7 linked regions of the Homo sapiens genome follow. The protein of the gene in region 6 purifies or fractionates together with the protein of the main gene of each other region. This does not show direct contact. Each region holds a gene or a part of one and is shown on either strand. Other genes may lie near its edges. The genes, in order: ANTXR1, UFSP2, ATP1A3, HEATR1, STOML1, SLAMF1 and ATP2B2.

Region 1 (3,500 bases), on a different chromosome or scaffold from region 6:
ATTCTAAAGACTGGGAATACAATTGTAAGCATGACAAACAAAAGCCTCTGTGGAACGTACGTTCTAGTGTGGAGAGACAGATATTAAGTAAATATCAAGCCATGATGAGATCCTTAACTAAAAATAAAACAGATTGATGGAATGAAGAGACCGCGGCTACTTTAGAAGAAATTTCCAGGGGAGGTTTCTCTGAGGAGTAATATGAAAATCCATCCATCAGAAGATGGGGTGGGGGAAGTGCTTTCCTAGACAAGGGGACAAGGGGACACTGTGCACAGGCCCCAAGACAGGAATTTGCCCAGAGTATTTGAGAGAGGGCAGGCAGGCTGGAGCTCAGGAGGAGGGGGGCACATGATAAGGAAGAAGGCCAGAAAGGTGAGCAAAGGCCAGAACACACAGGGCAGAGCTGGCGTTTGCACTTACTCTGCTGCTTTGTGGAGAACAGATCATAGGTGAGTCTTAGGGCAGCAGGAGGCCAGTTGGGAAGCTACCACAGTGTCCATGAGCAAGTGCATGGGGGCTTGGGCCCAGGATAGTGGTGGTGGGGATGGAGAAGTCAACAGATTTTAGATCTTTAAGTAGTAGCAACAGAACTAGCTGGCAAGTTGGGACAAGTTGGGGAGAGGCAGTAAAGAAGAGAGAGGCAGTGGGGAAGACTACAGGAGGAGCATGTTTAGGGTAGGGAAATCAGGACATCTCTGCTGTGGTGTTGTTGAGATGTTTTTTAGCCCCCAAATAATGTGAATGTCAAGTGAGCAGTTGGAGTTCAGAAGCATCAGGGCTGAAGATGTAAAGTCACAAGTCATTAGCATGTAGGTGGGGTTAGATGCGATTCCCACAAAGGAGTAGAGCTGTAGAAGAGAACAAGAGAACAGGACTGTACCACAAACTTACCAGGTAGCACTGCTTACATTCCCACTCTACAGATAAGGAAAACAAGCTTAGGTGGTTTCAGTGATTGGCCCAAGGTTCTAGGAAACAGTAGCACTGGGATTGCACCCAGGCAGTCTGACTCTATAAGCTCTACTCCTAATCACTTGGCTGTAGTAGGCAGGTCCACACAGCAGTGCTGTTTTGCTTCCTTCATGTGCCACAATTTCTCTGCAGGAAGAAGATGATGATGGTCTGCCTAAGAAAAAGTGGCCAACGGTAGACGCCTCTTATTATGGTGGGAGAGGCGTTGGAGGCATTAAAAGAATGGAGGTAAGAGGACAGCTTCATATACACTTATCTATGTGCTGACTACTCCCATCGAGGTACCAGCCGGGCCTGACCCTGCTTAGCCTCTAGATATCAGGCATGCCCAGGGCAGTATGGCCGTAGACCACACTGATGACTCAATGTCAGAAACCCAAAGCAAATTGCTGAAAACCTCCTTGAGGTCTGGTGGGGATATGGATTGTAAGGCAGACGGATGGAGAGATAGGAGGGACAGCCTTTCACTGTGCGTTTCCATGTCTTGCCCACCGTGAGTCAGAGCAGGTCACACATCAGCTCAAACGTCCTCGTGATTTCTTTTCTCACTGGAATAAAATCCAAAGTTCGTACCTGAACCTGCAAGGTCTTTGCATGTGCTGTCCCCGCTGCCTGGACAATTCCTCCCTAAATATCCACCCATGTGGCTCAGCTCTCTGCTCCTTTGGTCCTCCCCTTTTCTCTTTTTCCACAGTTTCCCTCTTCCCTGGCCCTCAAAACCCAAAGGAATCCAGGGTTGGGTAGCATTCACATTGCAACTCATGCATGTATTTGTCATTCTCATTCTCGAGGGGCAGCATATTTTGTCATTTCATTTCATTGTATTTTGTTTATTTTAGGTTCGTTGGGGAGAAAAGGGCTCCACAGAAGAAGGTGCTAAGTTGGAAAAGGCAAAGAATGCAAGAGTCAAGATGCCGGAGCAGGAATATGAATTCCCTGAGCCGCGAAATCTCAACAACAATATGCGTCGGCCTTCTTCCCCCCGGAAGTGGTACTCTCCAATCAAGGTGTGTCTCTTTACTCAAAAAATCTATCATCAGTCCTGATAAAACACTTACATAGTGAAGAATCAAAATCTTTCCACATGATAAAATCCCAACCTAAAACCCAGCTTATCACAGGGGAACAATTATCTAAAATTATGGACTTGAAAGTACTAGTAATTACTTTGTCAATTTCCACATAATCTGGGTTGAAAACTAGGCTTTTTAAAAATCACCGTGGTGCTCACTTCTGCAGCACATATAGTAAAACTGGAACAATATAGAGAAGATTAGCATGACCCCTGGGCAAGGATGACATGCAAATTCGTGAAGTGTTCCATATTAAAAAAAAAAAAAAAATCACCATGGCAAGGTACTGGAAAAAGCATGGACTGTGAGTCAAGTAACTTGGGTAGTAACCCCAGAGAGTGACTATAAATTTCCATAGCATCTCATAACTTCACTTAGCAGACAATCTACTATCTAAGAAAAATGGCAGCCTTCTCCTTAATGCTAATCTCTACTCCTTTTGCCATAATATAAGCCCATTCCCTTTTATTTGCGCCTCCTGCCAGTGTATCAGGGCCCACCAGCAAATCTCACTGGTCATGGATCTAGGACTCACTCTTTCTGGTTGTAAGCAAATCTTTTTTCTCCACCATCTGTCTTTCCCCCACACCTCCAGATCTTAAAATCCTCTTTGGTTTATTGGGAAGTGTAAACCGTTGGAGGCAGTTAATGTTTCCTAAAGGCCTCTTTTTTATTTTCTATTTATTTATTTTTTGAGACAGGTTCTCACTCTGTCACCCAGGCTGGAGTGCAGTTGTGTGATCTCTGCTCACTGCAACCTCGACCTCCCAGGCTCAAGCCATCCTCCCACCTCAACCCCCAAGTAGCTGGGACTACGGGCACGCACCACCACACCCAGCTAATTTTTGTTTTTTTTTTTTTTTTTTTTTTTTTGAGGGACGGATTTCACTATGTTGCCCAGGCCTGTCTTGCACTCCTGATAAAGCAGTCTGCCCACCTCGGCCTCCCAAAGTGCTAAGATTACAGGCATGGGCCACCATGCCCAGCCTGAAGGCCTCTTTTCTATTCTTCTTGGTCCAAATGGCTTTGAATTCACATGATTCAGTTAACACCTTCAATCTTTAGCCATGCCCATAAACATCTGCACTATGCCACTTGTCAGAGAGCACTGGAAAATTATAGCTGAAAAGACTCTAGACATAATCTGTCCCCACTCTCTGATTTCATACTGAGATAGGCAAAGTCCTTGTTCTGCTGAGGTCTGGAAAACAAGGCCCCCAACTCAGGGCTACAGACTCCAGTTTCAAGCTGCAAACAGAACCGAACCAACTCCAAAGCCTCAAGTCAAAGACTCAATAGAGCCAGCTCCCATCACCATCCATACACATACACACACTCACACACACACACACACACAGCCTTACCCCCCTTCCAATAGCAACAAAGATTATTTTCATCATTCGCTGAGTTAATTTGCTAATTTTGGATCAGGGCTTCTCCAACAAATCAAAA
Region 2 (2,928 bases), on a different chromosome or scaffold from region 6:
GAAAACAGTGGCTTCACATTTTATGTTTTCTTGGATTAAACTAATCAGACTCCTGAAGCTTAGTTACATGTGCTTTTAAAAATAATGCTTGCGTAATTGATAATTTAGTGTTAATCATTTAAATGTTAACTTAGGTTGTTGGTGCTATCGAATAATACTCAGTTCGAGTAAGTAAAAAGTCAGATCCTGAGCAATCAGAGGTGCAATTTTGTTCATTATGACTGTATTCTACTTCAGTTTCGGTTCAGGAAAACCCATTCTATAGTTCCCATTGACTACCTTTGGGTACTCATACACTGTATTAAACATCAGATAATTCTAACATTCATTCAGAACTGGAATGCCCGCTCTATGCTGGATTCTGTTAGTTGCTGAGGATACAATAGTGACCAAAAATGCAATTTCCTTATGCATCCTTTACCTCTTCTGTTCTGCAACCAACATTTGTATGAGCCCAAAATTCCCTTGTAAGATATAAAAAAAAAGACTTAAGTTCAATGTTTCATTTCACTCCGTTTTTATCCTGTTTTCAGTTTATGTAATAAGAACGGGCAAACAGCTGAAGATCTCGCTTGGTCATGTGGATTTCCAGACTGTGCCAAGTTTCTTACAACAATTAAATGTATGCAGACAATAAAAGCAAGTGAACACCCTGACAGGAATGATTGTGTTGCCGTGCTCAGACAGAAACGGAGTCTCGGAAGTGTAGAAAATACCAGTGGGAAAAGGAAGTGCTGGTAAGTAACTCAGAGCTGCTGCTTTTTTCCTCCCGCAGTGATCTCTTGTTTGCATAGCATTTATTATTCCATTTAATACTGACACTCGTATTTCTAGTAGTATTGTTTCATTCTCATTAACATTTTAGTACTGGTTATACTTACCAGAGTCTAGAGACCAAAAATGGGACTGCATGGTGGAAGTTTGGGGATAAAACTCTTTTTAAAAAAAAGTTTTTAATGTTAACGTGTTTTTAAAAACAGATGTCACGTGGGTTATGAAGAAGTCTGAAGAACGCCTTCATTTCATGCAAATCTATAAGCTCCTGCTTTTGGCTTTACCATATGTTGTGTCTAATCTCCTTCTGAGAAGGACGAAAAACTTTCTTCCAAGTGAAGATCCATTTAAGAACACATGTATTTACATGCCTATAATATGCTGGTTGTGTATGCTTTGTCTTTTAAGTTATTAAAGGAACGTCTAAAAAATACATTCTCCGTGCAGTATTTACAACCTTTGAAAAAGGTCATAATTTAAATCGTCAAACTAGAACCAGGATTTAATGTGAAAAATTAAACTGATTCTTTATTCACAAATTTATAATACCACTCTACTGCAGTCTTTGACTCCAAGATATTTTAAATCATATTTGGTCGCTGAGGAAGACATAAGTTATAGTATGCATCCTTGTTCCAAAAATCTGGGCCCTTCCATCCGCACCAGCCCTGGATAGAGAAGACGGGAAAGGAAAGCCTTTTACAAAGTTACAAGATTATGTCATGGAAATCGTGACATCAGGCTCTGTCAGCAGGACCTTGGAATAAGACTCTAAATGGCTTTATCATTCAAGGATTTGAATTCCTACTAGCATAGAAAAGTAACGTATCTTACCCTTTAAGGTAGGTTTTTGAACTTTTAATTCTATGTATGTAATTCATCATAAAAATCATTAAAAAAAATTTACCTGTAACTGTTATTCCAGATACCACACTTTACTGATTCTGAGATGTATAGTTTTACCACTTGCAACTGATAGCATGTGACAATTGAACTAGCAATCTGTTTTTCTTAATAGTCCATAAAGGACTGTAAGAGACCATTCAGTGGCATCTTAGGATTGAAGTACTGTAGTGAGAAACCTCAGCTTGCCCCCTGCCTGGCACTCTGTGCCCTTTCATTTTCAAATTCCAGGTGTTACTCAATTCTACTTCCCATGTTTCATGTCAGTATTAATCCTTTTTGCCAGCAGAGAAAATTACTTTCAAGCAAAATCTCATTTAGAGTATGAAAATTTCTCAGATTTCTCCTAGGGCCACTGAGTTATTTTATTAAAGAAGAAAACTTAAAAGCCAATAACTGGTCTGTATTATATGATTCTTAAATGCTTTGAGAAATCCTTGCAAGGAGGCTGAGACTCTGAAAATACCATGAAGTGAGTGACAAGCAGCGGTCTGACTCCCTCCTAATAAGATACACGTTGTCAAAAAACAAGATAAAAGTAAAAAATCCTCTACCAGTCCTAGGTAATCCCCCACTCTCCCTAGGTAACCAGCATTCTATTAATCATCTCATTTTTTCAGCAAAACTTTCTCTATTAATTTAATGTCCTAAAATCTGTTCTCTTAACAGACAGAGAAAAAAGGCTCATTCTGTTTTAACCTTTTTTTGATCCTTTTACACATGAAGGCCTTGTCCAGGTAACCAGATCCAGATTTTTTAAAGGAGAAATTGGTAGAGAGGGTGTCAGAATGGGATTGCATAGGGACATAGTGCATAGGACATGCTTCTTTCCTGTGAGATGACCAGCATGGGAACTTCAAACAGGAAAGCACCACAAGAAGGCAAAGAGGTCAGGCAGAGATGGAACTCTCCTCTGGCCTCCTGGGTTCCTGGAGTCAAGTGAATCAATAGTTTTAATGGCAGGACCTTGGCTGCACAGTTTCTTGTGTATACAAATAGAGCAAGGAGGTTTCTGCTGTTGAAAAGTTCTATAGAAATAGAACTAGCAAAGATGGAGATTGCAATTCTCAGAGAAAGAAATCAGGGACAATCCCTTACTCTAATTGTTCAGAAACCTTACCTAGATAATGCCATGTAGTGCAGAGCCCCTTGAGTCAACCAGAAAAGAGAAATTTGATGATGAAAATAATTAAGGCTTCTCCCTGCCTTTAAGAAAAAATCGAAATGCCTGGTTCACAAAGACCACCCTTT
Region 3 (3,500 bases), on a different chromosome or scaffold from region 6:
GGAGATTAGCGCTGAGCCGCGCTGAGCCTCCGATCCCAGCTTGGCCCTGGGCCTGCGGGACCTGTCAGCGGCCCCTGCAGCACCCAGCCTCGCCCCACCCCTCCCACCAGCCTCGGACACTGCCCTCCCCATCCGCCCAGGCTCCCAAACTGGAACTTCAGGGACTCACACCATGCGCAGTTCAAGCCAGGACTAGGGCTTCTGCCTCTAACTCTCCTGCTCTGTCCTCCAGGAACCTGGCCATGCCCAGCCTCTGTTAAGGACGCTCCATGGGCCCAACACATGGAAGATCCCAGAGAGAGGCAGAGACAGAGATAGAGGAAGGTACCAGAGGGAGACAGTGAGAGAGACAGAGACAGAGAGACATAGACAGAGATAGAGAGGCAGATTCCAGAGACAGAGAGAGGAGATCTCAGAGAGACAGAAATAGAGAATAAGATCCCAGAGAGAAAGTGAGAGAAAGAGACAGAGAGAGAGAGGAAGATCCCAGAGACAGACAGCGAAAGAGAGAGGAAGATCCTACAAAAAGAGACAGATATATATATATATATATATGGACAGAGAGAGAGAGAAAGAGAGAGAGAGATTGAGGAGAGCCCAGAGAGAGACAGTGGGAGAAAGAGAGACAGAGAGGAAAATTCCAGGATGAGGTAGTAAGAGAGAGAAAGAGAATGAGAGATATATGGGGAAGGAGGGGGACGGAAGATTTGAGAGAGACAGAGAGAGGGAGAGAGAGAAAGAGAATGAGAGATATATGGGGAAGGAGGGGGACGGAAGATTTGAGAGAGACAGAGAGAGGGAGAGAGAGAAAGAGAATGAGAGATATATGGGGAAGGAGGGGGACGGAAGATTTGAGAGAGACAGAGAGAGGGAGAGAGAGAGAGAGAAAGAGAAAGAGAGGAGATCTTAGTGATAGTGAGAGAGAAAGAGAGATTCAGAGATAGAGAGGAGATCCCAGAGAGAGAGAGTGGGAGAGAGACAGAGATAGGCAGATCCCAGAGAGAGATATTAGAGAGACAGAGAGAGAGACAGAGAGAGGTTGAAACAGGAAAAGAGACAGGTAGGGAGAGATGTGAGCATCCCAGAGGAGACAGCTTGAGAGATGAAGATAGAGACACAATGACAGAGAGAGACAGACCGAAAGACGGAAAAAGACAGAGACAGAAAGTACTGATCCTTGAGACGCCAACTCAGAGGGAAATAAGAACCCAGAGAGACAGAAACTCAGCCAGACCTGGGGAGACACAGCCAAGAGATGGAGACAGACATCATGCAAGGCAGAGAGACAAAGAACCAGAGATCAGAGAGAGACAAAATCATAGAAAGACACATGCAGAGAGACCCAGAGACTGGGATCAGGATAGAGAATGACAGAGACAACATAAAGAGATCAGAGCGATAGAGAGAGAGAGAGAGCTATCAAGAGAGAGAAACAGCCTTGCAAAGACAGAGATACAGAGATGGAGAGATAAAGAGACAGGAGACAGAGAGATGATGAAACAAAGCAATAAGACCAAGAGCCAAAAACAGACCTGGAGATACACATCAAGGGAGACAGACAGAGGAGAAAGAGATGGAGATACACGTGGAGACATAGAAAAGACAGATACGAGGCCGGGCACGGTGGCTCACGCCTGTAATCCCAGCACTTTGGGAGGCCGAGACGGGCGGATCACGAGGTCAGGAGATTGCGACCATCCTGGCTAACACAGTGAAACCCTGTCTCTACTAAAAATACAAAAAAATGAGCCGGGCGTAGTGGCGGGCGCCTGTAGTCCCAGCTACTCGGGAGGCTGAGGCAGGAGAATGGCGTGAACCTGGGAGGCGGAGCTTGCAGTGAGCTGAGATCATGCCACTGCACTCCAGCCTAGGCGACTAAGCGAGACTCCGTCTCAAAAAAAAAAAAAAAAAAAAGACAGATATGTAGGAAGGTTGGACAGGGCCAGGGAGAGGGAAGAAGAGACAGAAGCAGAGTTAAAATGTCACATAGAGGTGGGGCACGGTGGCTTATTCCTATAATCCCAACAGTTTGGGAGGCTAAAGCAGGAGGATCGCTTGAGTCCAGGAGTTAGAGACCAGCCTGGGCAGTGTAGTGAGACCCCATTTCTAGAAAAAAATTAAAAATTAGCCGGGCGTGGTGGCACACACCTGTAGTCCCAGCTACACAGGAGGCGGAGGCGGGAGGATCACCTGAGCCTCAGAAGTCGAGGCTGCAGTGAGCTGTGATTGCTGCACTCCAGCCTGGGCATCAGAGTGAGACATTGTTTCAAAAAACGAAAACAAAGTCACATAGACACAGAACACAAAAGGGGAGAGCCCCGCAAAGATGGGCACAGAAACAGAGAGAGACTGAAACACAGGCAGAAGCCAGACAGGGACCTTCGGGGACAGAGACTCAGAGACACACAGAACCAGAGACAGGGAAGCTGATTGCAGCAGATGAGACTCACGAGGCCTGAGAGTCACCAGAGGCAGAAGGGAGGTGAAGTCACCCAGAGGCTCCGGGAGACACAGGGAGACCCCGAGAGGCAGACAGAGACCCCCCACCCAGAGATGCAGGGGCACCGGCCAGGAGGATAGCTGGGGCATGGAGGGCCGGTGTCCTCCTGGAACCCCTTCTCGCCCGCAGTCTGGTGGCTCTGACAGCTATCGTATCGCCACCTCGCAGGACAAGAAAGATGACAAGGACTCACCCAAGAAGAACAAGGGCAAGGAGCGCCGGGACCTGGATGACCTCAAGAAGGAGGTGGCTATGGTAAGCCTCGCCCTCTGCCCGCACACCCTCCCAGAGAACCTCGCCAGTTCTTGGCTGGCCTAGGCACTCACCGTCTCCCCCAAACTCCTGTTCCTCAGACAGAGCACAAGATGTCAGTGGAAGAGGTCTGCCGGAAATACAACACAGACTGTGTGCAGGTGTGGCCAGGCTGTGGGCTGGGACCCTGGGAACTAGGGAGGAGGAGCTGGGGGCTAGGACCCCTGGGTCTGAGGGAGGAGGGGCTGTGGCTGGTGTCTTAAGTTCTGGGGGTCTGGTGAAGGCCTGGGGTGCCAGGGTTGCCCAGGGAGGGTTCTGTGTGAGTCCTCTGTCCCTCAGGGTTTGACCCACAGCAAAGCCCAGGAGATCCTGGCCCGGGATGGGCCTAACGCACTCACGCCACCGCCTACCACCCCAGAGTGGGTCAAGTTTTGCCGGCAGCTCTTCGGGGGCTTCTCCATCCTGCTGTGGATCGGGGCTATCCTCTGCTTCCTGGCCTACGGTATCCAGGCGGGCACCGAGGACGACCCCTCTGGTGACAACGTGAGTGCCTGGACCCTGCCCTGTGCAAGGCTCTGCACATTTATTTACGGACACCGCACCCCAACTTCTTCCCATCCCTCTAAGCTTTTCACAGCCCACTCTCCCCCTTTTTCCCATCTAACTCACAATCACCCAGCAAGAGAACCAGATCAAATACAAGGCAAACTGAGGCTCAGAAAAGCCAGGCTACTTGTCCAAGGCCCCA
Region 4 (3,500 bases), about 76 Mb from region 6:
GAACATGTACCTCGTATATTTTAATAATTAAGTCATATAATATATACTGTTCTACTTTATTCAAGTGGAATAAAATAAAAGTATGAAGTATATTACATACATATCACTGGCCTCGAAGTTAGGATTGCTGATTCAAATCTAGCTCAGTCATTTAGCTGCATGCCTTTGGCACTTCCTCCTGACATCAGGCTTTTGTTTTGTTCGATAATGTGTGGTTGGTAATGCCTACCTGAAAGGTTATTTTAAGAATTAAATAAGAAAATGTGTGTGGAAGTGCCTGGTGCCTGGAGGTGTGCAGTGGACAGCAGTCTGTCTTAATTGAAGTTGGTTTTTTTTTTAATTTGTTTTTCTTTTCATGTTAAATATAAAATTTCTCTTTAGGTCAATGCCTTGCTGCCCACAGAGACATTCATTCCTGTGATCAGAGGGCTGGTGGGCAATCCCCTGCCATCTGTTCGCCGCAAAGCGCTGGACCTTTTGAATAACAAGCTGCAGCAAAATATATCCTGGAAGAAGACAATAGTGAGTGAAGACCCAGGACACACCCATTTACTGTACTTTGCTTTATCAAAGAGCTGCATTTAACTCCCTTCAATTTCTCTAGTGGTACAATTTCAAATTGAAGTATATTATTTTCTGAATATAATACCATGACATGTTTTAAAATGTGACGTTAATTCTAACGGGAATATATGTGTGTTGTAAGAGCTCTTAGAATGGAATTTCAGCCTAGTGGAATTCTTGCTTACTACAGAGCTTACGTGGCCTTAGCCTTAGCATAGTTCTAAGTCCCTTTTACTCCAGATCAGTGGGTGCTTTGTATAAGTGAAACACTGGCTAGAACATGCACATCGCTTAGCATGACTGTGTGACTCAGGACCCCCGAGTCTGATTTCCATTTAGACAATCTCAAGCTGTGACAATGGGAAAATGGACAAACATTTTTTGCAGCTTTAATGATTTGGGGATTCTGGCTGTCCCCTTCAGGTTACCCGTTTCCTAAAACTGGTTCCAGACCTTTTGGCCATTGTGCAGCGTAAGAAAAAGGAAGGGGAAGAAGAACAAGCAATCAACAGACAGACAGCGTTGTATACCTTAAAGCTTTTATGCAAGAATTTTGGTGCAGAAAATCCAGATCCTTTTGTCCCAGTGCTGAACACTGCTGTGAAACTGATTGCTCCAGAGAGAAAGGAGGAGAAGAATGTCCTGGGAAGCGCGCTGCTGTGCATAGCAGAGGTGACCTCCACCCTGGAGGCGCTGGCCATCCCCCAGCTTCCCAGGTATGCGGCCGGAGACTTGGAACAGGAGCTGTTACCGCCTGGCACACATTGAAAAATAACACTTTGGTGACTTTTTTTTTTTTTCCTCTGAGTAGACGTTGCATAAAATTGGAATTTGTTAAAGAATTGATCTTGCAGGGTGTGGTGGCTCACGGCTGTGATCCCACCACTTTGGGAGGCCAAGGCAGGGAGATCGTTTGAGCCCAGGAGTTTGAGGCTGCAGTGAGCTATGACTGCACCACTGCACTGTAGCCTGGGCAACAGAGTGAGACCCTGTCTCTTAAAGAAATAATAATAAAAATAATTAATCTTCAAACAGAAAGATGCAGCCTTCCCGTTTATCTTCAGATGCACTACTTTGCAGTGTTAATCGTCCTCCATTCTTCCTTCCTTTTGTCTAGTATAGTCAAAAAGCAGTGGGTGAAGGTTCTTGGCAGAGGGGCCCACCCAGTTAGGCAAGGCCAAAGCTGCCTTCTGCTGCCAAATTTGGAAGTTAGAAGCTCCTGGCTGTGGTAGTTCCTTACTGTACAGCCAGTATGTTCCTTAACCTGTTAGAGCTTTGCTGTCTATAAAACAGAGACAGTATCTACCTCATAGGATTTCTGTAGGGCAGTGCTTGCAAGGAGTTTTGCATAGTGCCTGACACATAGTAAGTGTTCAGTTAATGAAAGACATTGTTATTTTTTAAATTACTGTTGTGTCCGTACTGTTAGCACTGGGAGATTTCTTGTGCTTAGCCACATAAAATGTATAGACACTGCTTTTTAGGCTATGAAGCAGATAGCGATGTAATAGGCACAGTTTGCTGGTTTTTTTCATAATGCCCTCTACTCCATTCCCTAGCCTCTGTTTCTGCTTCAAGTTCTTCTAAAGCTCTTACTTTGTTTCTAGCCTGATGCCATCGTTGCTGACAACAATGAAGAACACCAGCGAGCTGGTCTCCAGCGAGGTCTACCTGCTCAGTGCCTTGGCTGCTCTGCAGAAGGTTGTGGAGACTCTCCCGCACTTCATCAGCCCCTATCTGGAAGGCATTCTCTCCCAGGTGAGCCACGATAGCCACGACATGCTACGCAGGGTGGCTGGGGAAGGTAAAAGATCACAAATGTAGTGATTTTGTTTTTTCTTTAAGGGTTAGTTTCCGTTTGACAGAAAGGAGTCTTATTTCTGAAGAGATGTGCTTGCTTTTATTAAATGTGTACTTTTTCTCTTCCATCATCCTTGCCACTTAATCTTGAAATTGATATGGGGGTCACTTTTTAGCGAGATGCTTCTCTTCTTTAATTGTGCGGAATGTATTCTGGCTTTTTTTTCTTCTGTGAGATCTTTGGAGTTGGGCTGGTAGAGCCGCCTTTTATTACTTGTGGAAATTGATGGGCCCTGTTTCTACTGTGAGAGGTATAATCCTAAGGCATCTTGCAAAGCAGAATTTTTGTATTGCACGTCAGCGGTTTCCTGTCAACACGCTAGGGGCCAGTGGTATTTATGATTGAAGATGCTCAAGAATGTTGAGACCTGGCTGTTCCATTGTGTTGATCATTTGCCATTTACAAGGTTAGGAGCCTTCATTACCATGGGGCAAATGATTAAACCGCTTCACTTACACCACAGCCAGGGTTTAAAAGTAGCCTTCTCAGAGAAAGGGGCCTGTGCTCTGAGGAGCTTTCTCAGTTTTTTAGCAACTTGACTCTTGCCGTGGTCCCTTGCATTCCTGTCCTCTAAGAAAATCATCTGTCTGGGTGCTGTGTGTGCGTCTGCGTCTACCATCGGCCTTCGTCCCTGATCGCAAGTTGGGCAAGAGGTGTCTGCCCAGTTTTATCCACTGACGTTTAGGGCTGACTTTAAAAGGAATTCTGTGTGTAGTTAAAAAGTGCTAAGCATTTTCCAAACACTAGTACCTCATCATGAAGCCTCTCTGTAAGTGTGTGTTTGTCAGCGAAGATCTGCAGTGGCCCTGATCACTTTTTTTATATTCCTGTAGGTGATTCATCTGGAGAAAATCACTAGTGAAATGGGTTCTGCGTCACAGGCTAATATCCGTCTCACATCTCTTAAAAAGACACTGGCTACCACACTTGCACCCCGAGTCCTGTTGCCCGCCATCAAAAAAACTTACAAGCAGATTGAGAAGAACTGGAAGGTTAGATCTTATTGGGTATTAAGACTTTGGAGAAGGGAGAGGTGGTACTGCAATGTGTAAACTTTGACTTAAAGAAGAAGATT
Region 5 (3,870 bases), on a different chromosome or scaffold from region 6:
CACACTGTGGCCACCCTTTGAGGCCCAGTGAGACTTGTCCTCTGTGCCCTTGCCTGGCTCTCTGCACCCATTCCACATTGTGTGTTTCTGCTCCTTGCATATATGGCTGCCCTCCCTGCTGGACTGGGAGCTTCCTGCATCAGCATTCACCTGTGGATTCCTTCCATTGCTATTACACAGTATATGAAGGGCTGCCCAGGAAACCCCAGGCATCTTCACCATGAAAGCTGGCACGGCCCCTTGGCTGGGGTAGGGCTGGAGGGTAGGGAAGACAGGAAAAATGAGATCACAACTTAGGGGAAACCCAAACTCTTCTTTGTGAGCATGGGAAGATCAACATAACGTTTAGGGGAAACCGAAACTTTTCTGGATGTCTGTGTAGGTGGAGAGTAAGGCCTGCCCCTGCCATGAATCCCCACCCTGTGGAGGGGAGCTCGATCCTTGGCCAGCACTCCAGGACTACAGAGGACTGAGCAGACCCTGCAGTCCACAGGGGAGGAAGGACAAGGGCCACCTAAAGGGTCGGTGTGAAGAGGGAGGAGGAGGGTGTGTGTCAATCAGAGAAGGCTTTCCTGAGGAGGTGATGTCCTCCACATCCCAGCTACCAAGTAGGTGGACAATAAGAAGAGATGGGGAAAATCATTCAGCAGAGGAGAAGTCCCTGCAAGGGCACAGCTGGAAGAGGCAGTCAGGCAACTGGGCTTCGGGGAACTAGAACCTGAAGTACCAGACAGGTTGTGTGCGGGCATTTGAGGGGCAGGGTATAGAAATAGTAACCATTACTGTGTGCCAAATATGTCCTTATACCGGACTAGACACTTCTTATTATATTTTTCTTCAAGATAACCTGGTGAATAATGATAATAGTTTAAGTATCCTAGTTAATATATTAATATATAATGTGTTATTTTGATGTTATTGAAAAGTATTTTATTTTTTTTTGAAACAAGAGTCTTACTCTGTTGCCCATGTTAGAGTACAGTACAATCTCAGCTCACTGCAACCTCTACCTCCCGGATTCAAGTGATTCTCCTGCCTCAGACACCTGAGTAGCCAGGATTATAGGCGCATACCACCACACCTGGTTAATTTTTGTATTTTTAGTAGAGATGGGATTTCACCATGTTGACCAGGCTGGTCTCGAACTCCTGACCTCAAGTGATCTGCCTGCCTAGGCCTCCCAAAGTGCTGGGATTATAGGTGTGAGCCACCGCACCTGGCCTTATTTTTAAGCATTTAAAAAAAATTTTTTAGACCGTCTTGCTCTATCACCCAGGCTGGAGTGCAGTGGCATGATCATAGCTCACTGTAGCCTTGAACTCTGGGGCTCAAACGATCCTCTTGCCTCAGCTTCCTGAGTAGCTGGGACCACAGGTTGTGCCACCACAACCGGCTAATTTTTAAAATCTCTTTTGTAGAGATAAGGATGTCTCCCCATGTTGCTCAGGCTGGTCTTGAACTCCTGGGCTCGCAGGATCCTCCCACCACAGCCTCCCAAAGTGCTGGGATTACAGGTGTGAGCCACTGTACCCAGCCAATATTTAAATTTTGGTTGGCTAAACATTTAAAAAGATAGGAAAGCATATTATGAAAATTCTCCCTCCACACATATTTCCCATGCCTTCCCCCATCCCCTGCGATTAGTTTCTTGGTAATTCTTCCTGAAGGTTTTGTTTTTTAAAAAAAAATATATGCAAGAAAATCCAAATATGTATCTTCTGGGTTTTTGTTGTTCCTGTTTTTATACAAATGGCAACATAGAAACACAATGTTGCCTTTTTCACTTAACATTACCCACTGAGGATCTTTCCATGTTACCACAGACAGCCTTTCCCTGTGCTTTCTTGTACTTACATAGGATTCCACAGTATGGATGTATCATAAATTATTCAACCTGTCGTGGACCGATAGACATTTTGATTATTTCTTGTGTTTTGCTATTTTAAATACTTTTGCAATGAATAACCTTTAACATGTGCTATTTGTGGTAGAGTTTATCTATAAGATAAAATCCTAGAAGTGGAATTGCTAAATCAAAGCATTTATAATTTAGTAAATATTGCCAGAATACCTTCTCTGGGGATTATACCAATTTACACTCCCATTGTCAGTGGTGTTTTTTTCTCATAGTCATGTCAATACACTGTGTTATTAAACTTTTGGGTCTTTTGACATTCTGGAAAGTGAAAATTTGTATCTCAGTGTAATTTTTTTGTTTATTGTTCAAGTTATTTTTTTGTTTTTTGTTTGTTTGTTTTGAGACAGGGTCTCACTCTGTCTCCCAGGCTGGAGTGCAGTGCAGTGATTGTGGCTCACTGCAGCCTCAACCTCCCAGGCTTAAAGGATCACCATGCCTGGCTTTTTTTTTTTTTTTTTTTTTGTAGAGACAGGGCCTTCTCAAGCTGGTCTCTAACTCCTGGCCTCAAGTGATCCTCCCACCTGGCCCTGGCCCGCTAACTGCTAGGATTACAGGCATGAGCCATCTAGCCCAGCCTGTTTATTGTCCAATTGTTTATTGCTTTGTAAGTCTTGGATTTCTAGCTCCAGCAAAGAACAGGGTTTGGTTTGGTTTGGTTTCTCTTCCCCTAGCATTTACATATTTTTTAAAGGTGTAATTTACATACAACAAACACCCTTTTAAAATGTATTATTTGGCTGGCTTGCGCCTCTAATCCCAGCACTTTGGGAGGCCGAGGCAGGTGGATCACCTGAGGTCAGGAGTTTGAGACCAGCCTGACCGATATGGTGAAACCCCATCTCTACTAAAAATACAAAATTTAGCCAGGCATGGTGGTACACGGCTGTAGTCCCAGCTACTCGGGAGGCTGAGACAGGAGAATTGCTTGAACCCAGGAGGTGGAAGTTGCAGTGAGTTGAGATCATGCCACTGCACTTTAGCCTGGGCAACAGAGTGAGACTCCATCTCAAAATTAAATAAATAAAGATAAAATAAAAAGTGTCATCTGAGGTGCTTTGACAAATGTGAACACCTGAGTAACCACCACCCCCTACAATCAAATACAAAACATTCCCATCCACTCACAAAGTTCTCCACGTCACTTCCCGTCAGTGCTTGCCACCTCCAGCTTTGAGCAGCCACTGACCTTTCCATAACCGCTGATCACATTTCACTTTTCTAGCATTTCATATGAATGAAATGAGTGCACAGTACTCTTCTGTGTCTAGCTTTTTCCCCCTCACTGTAATGGTTTTGAGAGTAATACATGTTATTCTGTGTATCTGTAGTTTGTTGTATTGCCAACACATTCCATTGTCTAGATAGAGGCACAATGTATTCATTCATCCATTGATGAACATTTGAGTAGTTTTCAGGTTTGGTTATTAAATAAAGCTCCTCCAGACATCTGTGTACAAGTCTTTGTTTGGACATATATTTTCATCTGGGTAAATACCTAGAATTGCTGGATTGAAAAACTGTCAAACATTTCCAAAGTGGTCCTGTCAACATGCGGTATAGTCAGTCTTTTAAACTTTAGCCACTCTAACAGGTGTGACTGACAATGTTGAGCCACTTTTAATTTGCTTATTGGGCACGTGTCTTCTTTTGTGAACTATCTGTTCAATATTTTGCTTATTTAAGAAATGGGCTATTAATATTGTTGAGCTTTAAAAGTTCTTAGTATAGCTGGATGCAGTGACACATGCCTATATTCCCAGGTACTTGGGAGGCTAAGGGAGGATCAGTTGAGCCCAGAAGTTCGAGGCCAGCCTGGACAACACAGCAAGACCTGATCTCTTAAAAGAAGAAGAAAGAAAGAAAAAAGAGAGAGAGAGACTCTCCATACGTTGCCTAGGCTGAGTGCAGAGGCACAATCCTGGCTCACTGCAGCCTCAACCTCCTGGGCTCAA
Region 6 (3,500 bases):
ATGCAAATGTTCATTTAATTTTTTTTTGTTAACTAGTTTGTTTATTGATTATCACATCTATAAAACATGTCATGTCTATGAAACTTCAACAGTACACAAGAGTATTTAGTGAAGACTAATTTCCCTTCCATACCTCATGCTGGAGGCAACCACTGTGACCAGTTTCTTGTGTGTCTTTCCAAATGTATAGGTCTTCGTGTTTGATAGATCAGTACGGTGACTATAGTTAACAATAATCTATTGTACATATCAAAATAACTGGAAGAGAATAATTCAAATGTTCTTAGCATAAAGAAAAGAGAAATACTCAAGGTGATACATATCCCAATTAACCCGATTTGATCTTTACACAACATGTGAGTGTATCAGACAGCACATGTGCCCTGAAAATATATACATCTATTATGTATCAATTTTTTAACATGGCAGAGAAGAAATCAGAGATAAAGAGGGTGGGGAAATAAAACTTCTCTCGACTTTTCAGTGTCCTGGTGAAGAGTACTAGCTCTGACATTTTTTCATACCATAAGAATTAAATCTGTAGTTATTTGCATAGGTAATTGCTCTGATCCAAACGAATAATAAAATTTTTCCCGAGAGGAGCAAATGGTTATAGCCTGAACAAGGTCCCTAGGTAGAGCGCCCAGGGTGCCATGAAGCCTGGAGTCACTATCTTCCTAAGCAGGCCAGCATAAGCTTGTGCCATCATTATGCAGCATGCAAGAAGGAATGAGCCCCAGAACTTGGAGTCAAGTCCCAGGACTTGCCATAAAAGCCAAGACATGTAACGGACTATCTGGCTCCTGGAGAGATTTATCTACCTACCAAAGTGTTGGAATAAGGAGCAGACCTTTAAGACGGGGAGGGGGGATAGCTGCCTCCTCCCTCTTTTATAGGTAGGGAAAATAATTTGTCCTTGTTTCTTACCTATGGAGTGTCTGTTTACTCACATAGAGCAATTGACCTTGCTCTTATCACATCATCCTAGGGGGAAGTGGGGGGCCAAAGCATTTACTATTTACTGTGAGTCATTTAATAAGAAATTTAACTCTAATCCAGTATATCTCATGTGCACATTTGGGATAAAGTTAATAAAAATGAATATTAAAAACTTAGCCCCAAATAAATGGGTCCGATGGGCTTGATTTTTATGGAACTTGAGAAGGAGCGTTCTAGAAGGAGGCACAAATGCAGAGGTAAAGGGTTTCAAGTGTTCTTGGCAAGTTGTCTGTTGTACCTGAAACCTAGGGTTTATATTTAAGGCACTTCCATGTCCTCAGCTGGCAAGTGGGGAAAAGGGTCCCCACCACTTTCTTCCATAATATACCTCTTAGGGATACTATAAAGGCAAATCAGAGTACATTCTGCTTTTGGAGGGAGGAGAACTTGGACTCTGTGTTGTCATTTGCTCATTTTTCATTCATCCCATTCTGTTTTATTAATTCACTTGGGCAACAAGGATTTACTGAGCTCCTACTATGTCCCAGGTGGGTGTTAGGGATACTGTAGTGAATAAAACAGACACAGTCCCTACTCTTGGAAGCTTATAAGAGTGGGGGATTACAGGCATTGAACCAGAGTTGAACACGTGATGAATGATATGAAGGAGTGCGTTCATTGTCCATTGGAAGTCTGTGACAGGAAAACCCAACCTAAGTCAGGAGTCAGGAAAGTCTTCCCTATGAAAGAGATGTCAAAATGGAGACCAGAAAGATGGAAGTTGTTAGCTAGGCAAATAAAGAGTGGTTATAGCCTCTAAGGCTAGGGAACGTACATACTAATAGTCTAAGATAGAAAGACCCAGCAGTGCCAAATAATAAAAATAGGACTTTGACTGATGGGGATACAGTTTAAAAAGCAAACACAGACAAGATGTCTTTTCTTTCTGAGCCTAAATTTACCAAAAGAACTGTGGGGTCTGTAAGTTCTGTTCCTTCTGTACCTGAAAGAATACTGTAGCAAGATGCTAAAAGCACATATGAAAGTGTCAGGGCTAGGCAAAAAAATATAATACAATAAAACAAAAAGAGTTATCATTAGGTAGAAGCCCATCTTGTGAGAGGGTTGGCTAAATCCTACTATTAATAATTTTTGACCAAACTCCATAGGCCCATGTGAATCACTCATTTTTCGAAGTAGAATTACCCATGAAGGAAAGTGAGTTGGTGTTAACAGCTACAAATGTTTCCTCCCAGACTCTTTTAGTAAATAAGGGCTGGCTGAATCACAGACACACTGGAAAACACTCATCTAGCAGGATGTTTCAGGAGCAGGGACGCCACTCGAGGGGTTTTATGAACCACTTTAAAGCCCCCACTTATTTTTCCACCTTGTGCTTATGTGAGGGTGATCTCAAGTACCCCCTCCAGACCCCAACACTCACACACTCAGGTATTGCGTCATCATTCTTTATGTGGGTTGTGGGGTATAAGGGTCTCTTCCTGATGAAGTTTTGGTTCCACTCCTCATGACTGAGTGTGCATAAAACCACTCAGCCTCTCTCATCTACCCCTCCCTTTTCCTCTTCCTCTTTCTCCTTCTATGTTCTTTCGTTTATTTTATTTTTTTATTTTTTTATTTTTTTGGTTATTCCCTACCTCTCTTATATCCCTCTTTCTCCTCCCCCAATCAACTCCAAGTTCTGAAAGCAACCATGGCGCAAAGAGTGTGCAAGGTTAGGTGGGGAAGGAGTGCATGGGAGCCATTTTGGGGAGTGGTGGCGATGGGTTATGGCCTGAAAATGGGATTTTTTATTCTTTTTTTCTCCCTATCAAAGTTGGTCTTTAAAAATCAACACTACGCTAGCAATTTTTAATCTTGTTTTGAATCTCAGATCCCTTTAAGAGATGGCATTTATGGATGTGCTCCCAGAAAAATATGTATACGCTCATCTATACAACTTTTTATACAAAAGTCTGGAAGTTCATACTTGCACATATGGCTTTAAATTTTTTCTCATTTCTTTATACACAGAAGTTTAGGTTCAGGATTCAAGAAGTTACTCTTTTAGGTACTGTGCCTACAAGTCAGGTATGTAGCCACCAAAGGGGTCACATTATCTAGACAGTCAGGCATCCATAAGTGTGGTGGAAGAAAATCCAACATGCTTCCCAGTATATTAATGTAAAAACAACCACCACCACCACAATAACTATAATGTTCCTCATGTCATCAAGCAGCAGGGGAGAGCACTCTGTTTTAAGCTTAATATATTCGCAATATTTTAAAAGACAAATGCCTAATTGCCTTTCTCACTTTTCCTCAACAATTAAGAATTTCAATCACTCTAGGCCAGATTTTAGCCCAGATAGACTTCTTTTTCTTCTTCCCCAATCACTGAATCTCTAGTCTACTATTAGCTGAGCCCTTTACTGAGCAACATGGGGATTTCGGGGTATTTTGGTGACAAGAATATTTGGGCCAGTGTGTCCAATTTTCCAATAGCTCATCTTAGCCACAAGTCAGTTGTGAAAGAGTCTCTTCTAGGTAGCTGCATTACT
Region 7 (4,064 bases), on a different chromosome or scaffold from region 6:
GGTAGTGTTGAAATATTATAAATGGTATTGTGTTGATTTTTTTTTTTATTTAGTAACTTACAGGTTTGTTTCCTTATTAATGGCAGCATCTGAGCTGTTGGCATATTGGATGAGGATCAGTATGGCTTGCTGCTTTTATTTTTATTTTTGAAGAAGAATAGCCTTTTTCTCTGCACTATTTAGATCCGAATGAACCTTATGATGTGTATATTGAGATGTACTCAGTGTGATTTTAAACCAAATTGTCTTCCTGTAGTCACAATATATACTGTAGCCTTTTAACAGCAAGTCTTGCTTTCCCAAACAGAAAGCCATTCTGAAACCCTACAGTATCACAGGTGAGAAAAGGTGGTTATTTTTTCCCCAAGACAACAGCACTAGTAATCCCACTTAATAAGAGCTTATTTAATTGGATGTCAGCCTCTTAACTGCTAAGCACTTTGTGGGTCTCAGCGTTTTTCATAAAAGAACTTTTGTATTTAATACAAAGTTTGCTTTGAGACTTTTCAGCATATGATCTTTTTTCCATAAACTTGTACAGTGCAAAAGACATTTTGAATACCATGATCGATGATGTCCCATGCTTCGAGGAAAACCAAACACTTTCCGCCTCTCTTGCAAAATCCATTCCTCATGCTGACCCTCCTCACGATGGCTGTGTCAGCCCAGCCCCTTCCCTTCTCCAGGCCCAGAGAACTCTTCCACAAACAAGATGAGAGCCACTCGGGAAAAGAGCCATAGTCAACTGGGAGGGCCTACATCTGGATGGCGGTGGAAAAACTTGAGGGTTTGGGGTTCAAAGTCAGCCCATCCCACCTGGCAAAATCCTCCTGGAAGGAGGACCTTCAAGAGCGCATCACCTGAATGTCGTGAAGAAGTATCTCTGAATGTATCCAGGAGAGGAACTGCATAACCAAAGGGGTGACCAGCCCTCAGATGTGCTTATTGGATTCCAGTACAAACGCCACCAAAGCCAGCCCACTGCTCTCCTACAAGGAAGGAAAGATCTGCACGTGTAAAACATGGGGCAGCCTTGGAACATGGTGTTTTTTGGAGTTTCCTTTCTCACAGTTTTCCATCTCCCCACTTCTTTGATCAGTCATGTGTCCGTGACCTCGTTCCATGACATCAGGATAGCTGTGTTTGCACACCATGCTCCATGTTCATTCGGAGCCAGGAGGGGTTCTCAGTGGAGCCTGGCTTAGGGAACAGGGAGCGATGGAAGAATGCCAACATTAGCGTTGGTCTTCTCTTGTCAGGAATGAAGGATGCTTGCACACATGCACCCCCTCACTCTCACACTTGCACACATACACACACACACACACGAAATGGTTGGTTTGTCAAAACTCACTGTAGTACATAAAGCTTGCACTCTGCGTCCTATATCTAGCAGCATGGGGTACGTTTGGCAGTTCACTCCATTAGGGGGTAAATAATTTATGACCATTCATCTGTTTTTATGAATTTTTTTATCTAGACAATAATGTAAATAAAGAACTCACCATCTCTGTTCATTTAATACTATGCAATGGTTATGCTTTCAATCGCTGGCTCTTCTGACTCGTGCAGTGTGGTTCTGAAATGTTTGTGGTTTAAAAAAAAAAGCAAAAAACAACATCAAACAGAACATAGTAAATATATCTGTAATGTATACTTTTTTCTACTTTGGGACTGCATCATCCACATAGCTTCTTTTCTGTCCTCTAGACAAGGGCTCCAGGAGTAAGTGGCAGATTTGGTTCTGAGAGCTAAGCTCACCAACTTGTCTCCCCCTCAACAGATGAGGGAAGGGCAGGGAGCCCGTTCAGTGACTCCTGGCGCTGCAGAATCACTCATCTTTGGAGGTGAGCAGAGAGAGCTCTGAGGAGTTTCCTTCTTGCAACTCAGGCGGAGCTTTCTTTAACTCAGGAGCAGCCTCCATTGCTCCCGCCAACCCCTCACCATGGCCCCTTGTCCCCTTGTCCCAACCATAGCATAGAGATGACAAGAGAGAGGCAGTCCTATTTCTGAGACTGGACCAATTAAAATGACTGCACTGGCTCAAAGGACTCTGAACCTGTCTTGTCCTGGGTCCTCCAGTTGTTGGAAGCCACTCTTTTCCCCAACCATGCTGAAATGCCACCTTTACCACACACTGATGTCTTACATAGACTTAGATCTATTTCTGGAACTTCTCTTCTCTTCGCTTACTTGGGTGTCTCATCTGGCACCAGCCATACAATTTTAACTATTGTCAATTTCTAATGTCTTATTATGTGGTGGGATGAGTCCCTTCACTCTTCTTTTACAAAATTTCCTAGTTATTCTCTCACATCTATTCTTCCACATAAACTTTAAATTGTGCCCAGTCCTCCACCCCCTGTCCCATTCCCACCCCCAAATTCTGGGCTCTGTCATTCCCTGTGCCATCATCTTCCCCCCATTGTAATTACTGTCCACTCAGGGCTGTGAAATAGACTATGTTCTGTAAAGAGGGACAAAAAGGGCATCCTGATCTTGAGAGAAGCCTGCTGTTCCTCCCATCATTTCACCTGCCCCCTAAGCCCAGGAGTTGTCATGAGAGGTCACCAGGCCCCCACTCAATCTCAGCTTGGGAACCAAAGTCACCCACCTTGGTTGTGTTGGGGTGGACCCGCCATCTGTCCCTGGTCCAGACGAGAAAGAGGAGTCTCTCCTAGGCCTGGAGCTGGGAAAGAATGTGTGGCCCAGTTGTCTGCACTTCTAATTCTCATCATGGAGAAACCTTTATTCCTATCTCCCTTTCCTGAACTGGTTTTTTGTTGTTTTTGTTTCATTTTGTTTTGGGGGGATAGTTTCTTGCTCTTTAATTTGGAGTCTCCAGTACCTTTGGGATGCAGGCAGTTCTTGCCTGGGCCTTCTCGGAACCCTCACTCCCCTAGCCCACTCTTGCGCTACCTGCAGGAGGCTGCCAACCTGGTGCATTCTGACAAGCCTCCCACCCAAATCTCTCTCCTGCCATTGTGTCCAAAATCCCACCATTAGAGGCTCTTGTAGGGAAGAGCGTTTCTTGAAGGCTTTTAGGCCTTCCAGAGCCAGGAGGGAAGTCAGACAATAGCAGGAAGTCCCCAGGCCTTTTCAAAGTTCCAAACCAAGCTCTCCTGATTTTAATGTAGAGATCATACCAACCCAGGTGGGGGAGGAGGGTCCCCAGCCCCAGGCAGCAGCCATCACCCCCTCCACTGAAAACAATATTGGAGGCTGCTTTGGGACTGCCCTTCTCAGCCCCCTAAGTCTGTTTTGTAATGCCTGTGGTGCTCTCCCTCCTGGACCTTTCCTCTCGGGGGTCACCACACTTTGCTAACTCTTGTGTGCACATATTTTATAATAGAGTAGCGAGGGAATGGTGCCGCCTCCAGCTTCCGTAAGCTGCCCGGGCTCTGGGGGGCTCTGGGACAATCGGGGCTGGGAAGTGACTGTGCTCTTATTGTACACTCTTTATTTCTCTGTATCTTTGGCTTGTGCTCTTTGTAATTAATGGGATTTGTCTGCCTTTTCAACACTATACTGAGCAATAACAATAAATGCACACGTGGAAATGCAGACACGGTACACATCACAAGGCCTTTTTCTGAAGGACAGCTGGGTCCCCGCCCTTCGTGGAGTTGAACTCAGGGGGAAACTGAGTCCCTGGGAGGGAAATGCACTTTGCCCAAGGGCCCACAGCTCAGCGGGCAGTCTCTCTCCTTCCACTAGATCACACCTTTTGAACACCCACCATTTGAGGGAGACAGGCTCACCCTGCCATGAGCCATTAACCTATGAGGAATGGTTGACCATCTCATAGAAGAAGACTGGGGAACGGGGCCTCAGGACGAAGCGGAGGAGGTTTGGGGGCAAGGGGTGGGGGGGCAAAAATCAGGGAAAGTTGGCCTGATTTGGGGTCTGGATTAACCAGAGGGAGGAGATGCGGAATACAGACACTGGATCTAGGTGGCACCCCCCTACTGGGGAGAGGGGTAAGGCAGAGGGAAGCCTGGCACCTGAGGAGTCTGGACTTCACAAACCTCTGCTGAACATTGGCAGAGAAAGAGAATATGCCC

Evidence for each region.
Region 1: the proteins of SLAMF1 (region 6) and ANTXR1 purify together in Homo sapiens (affinity purification with mass spectrometry; 2 studies listed by BioGRID and IntAct, with this or other methods). This does not show direct contact.
Region 2: the proteins of SLAMF1 (region 6) and UFSP2 purify together in Homo sapiens (affinity purification with mass spectrometry; 2 studies listed by BioGRID and IntAct, with this or other methods). This does not show direct contact.
Region 3: the proteins of SLAMF1 (region 6) and ATP1A3 purify together in Homo sapiens (affinity purification with mass spectrometry; 2 studies listed by BioGRID and IntAct, with this or other methods). This does not show direct contact.
Region 4: the proteins of SLAMF1 (region 6) and HEATR1 purify together in Homo sapiens (affinity purification with mass spectrometry; 2 studies listed by BioGRID and IntAct, with this or other methods). This does not show direct contact.
Region 5: the proteins of SLAMF1 (region 6) and STOML1 purify together in Homo sapiens (affinity purification with mass spectrometry; 2 studies listed by BioGRID and IntAct, with this or other methods). This does not show direct contact.
Region 7: the proteins of SLAMF1 (region 6) and ATP2B2 purify together in Homo sapiens (affinity purification with mass spectrometry; 2 studies listed by BioGRID and IntAct, with this or other methods). This does not show direct contact.

Annotation. Positions count from the first base shown.
Region 1 is NC_000002.12:69,180,679-69,184,178, forward strand, and holds part of ANTXR1 (anthrax toxin receptor 1 isoform 1 precursor), read left to right. Parts: intron 1-1,107; coding exon 1,108-1,203; intron 1,204-1,814; coding exon 1,815-1,982; intron 1,983-3,500. UniProt on the Homo sapiens protein: Plays a role in cell attachment and migration. Interacts with extracellular matrix proteins and with the actin cytoskeleton and thereby plays an important role in normal extracellular matrix (ECM) homeostasis.
Region 2 is NC_000004.12:185,399,037-185,401,964, forward strand, and holds the end of UFSP2 (ufm1-specific protease 2), read right to left. Parts: intron 1,688-2,928; exon of another isoform or gene 1,443-1,687; coding exon 1,356-1,442; 3' UTR 982-1,355; coding exon of another isoform or gene 981-981; 3' UTR 742-980; coding exon of another isoform or gene 534-741; 3' UTR 501-533; downstream 1-500. Other genes in the region: ANKRD37 (ankyrin repeat domain-containing protein 37), read left to right, coding at 534-741. UniProt on the Homo sapiens protein: Thiol-dependent isopeptidase that specifically cleaves UFM1, a ubiquitin-like modifier protein, from conjugated proteins, such as CD274/PD-L1, CYB5R3, DDRGK1, MRE11, RPL26/uL24, TRIP4 and RPL26/uL24.
Region 3 is NC_000019.10:41,987,731-41,991,230, reverse strand, and holds part of ATP1A3 (sodium/potassium-transporting ATPase subunit alpha-3), read left to right. Parts: intron 1-2,629; coding exon of another isoform or gene 2,630-2,668; coding exon 2,669-2,755; intron 2,756-2,853; coding exon 2,854-2,913; intron 2,914-3,091; coding exon 3,092-3,295; intron 3,296-3,500. UniProt on the Homo sapiens protein: This is the catalytic component of the active enzyme, which catalyzes the hydrolysis of ATP coupled with the exchange of sodium and potassium ions across the plasma membrane.
Region 4 is NC_000001.11:236,556,017-236,559,516, reverse strand, and holds part of HEATR1 (HEAT repeat-containing protein 1), read left to right. Parts: intron 1-381; coding exon 382-522; intron 523-987; coding exon 988-1,280; intron 1,281-2,171; coding exon 2,172-2,322; intron 2,323-3,258; coding exon 3,259-3,417; intron 3,418-3,500. UniProt on the Homo sapiens protein: Ribosome biogenesis factor; required for recruitment of Myc to nucleoli. Involved in nucleolar processing of pre-18S ribosomal RNA. Required for optimal pre-ribosomal RNA transcription by RNA polymerase I.
Region 5 is NC_000015.10:73,978,426-73,982,295, reverse strand, and holds the end of STOML1 (stomatin-like protein 1), read left to right. Parts: 3' UTR 1-3,370; downstream 3,371-3,870. UniProt on the Homo sapiens protein: May play a role in cholesterol transfer to late endosomes. May play a role in modulating membrane acid-sensing ion channels. Can specifically inhibit proton-gated current of ASIC1 isoform 1. Can increase inactivation speed of ASIC3.
Region 6 is NC_000001.11:160,640,545-160,644,044, reverse strand, and holds part of SLAMF1 (signaling lymphocytic activation molecule isoform b precursor), read left to right. Parts: intron 1-3,500.
Region 7 is NC_000003.12:10,323,523-10,327,586, reverse strand, and holds the end of ATP2B2 (plasma membrane calcium-transporting ATPase 2), read left to right. Parts: 3' UTR 1-3,564; downstream 3,565-4,064. UniProt on the Homo sapiens protein: ATP-driven Ca(2+) ion pump involved in the maintenance of basal intracellular Ca(2+) levels in specialized cells of cerebellar circuit and vestibular and cochlear systems.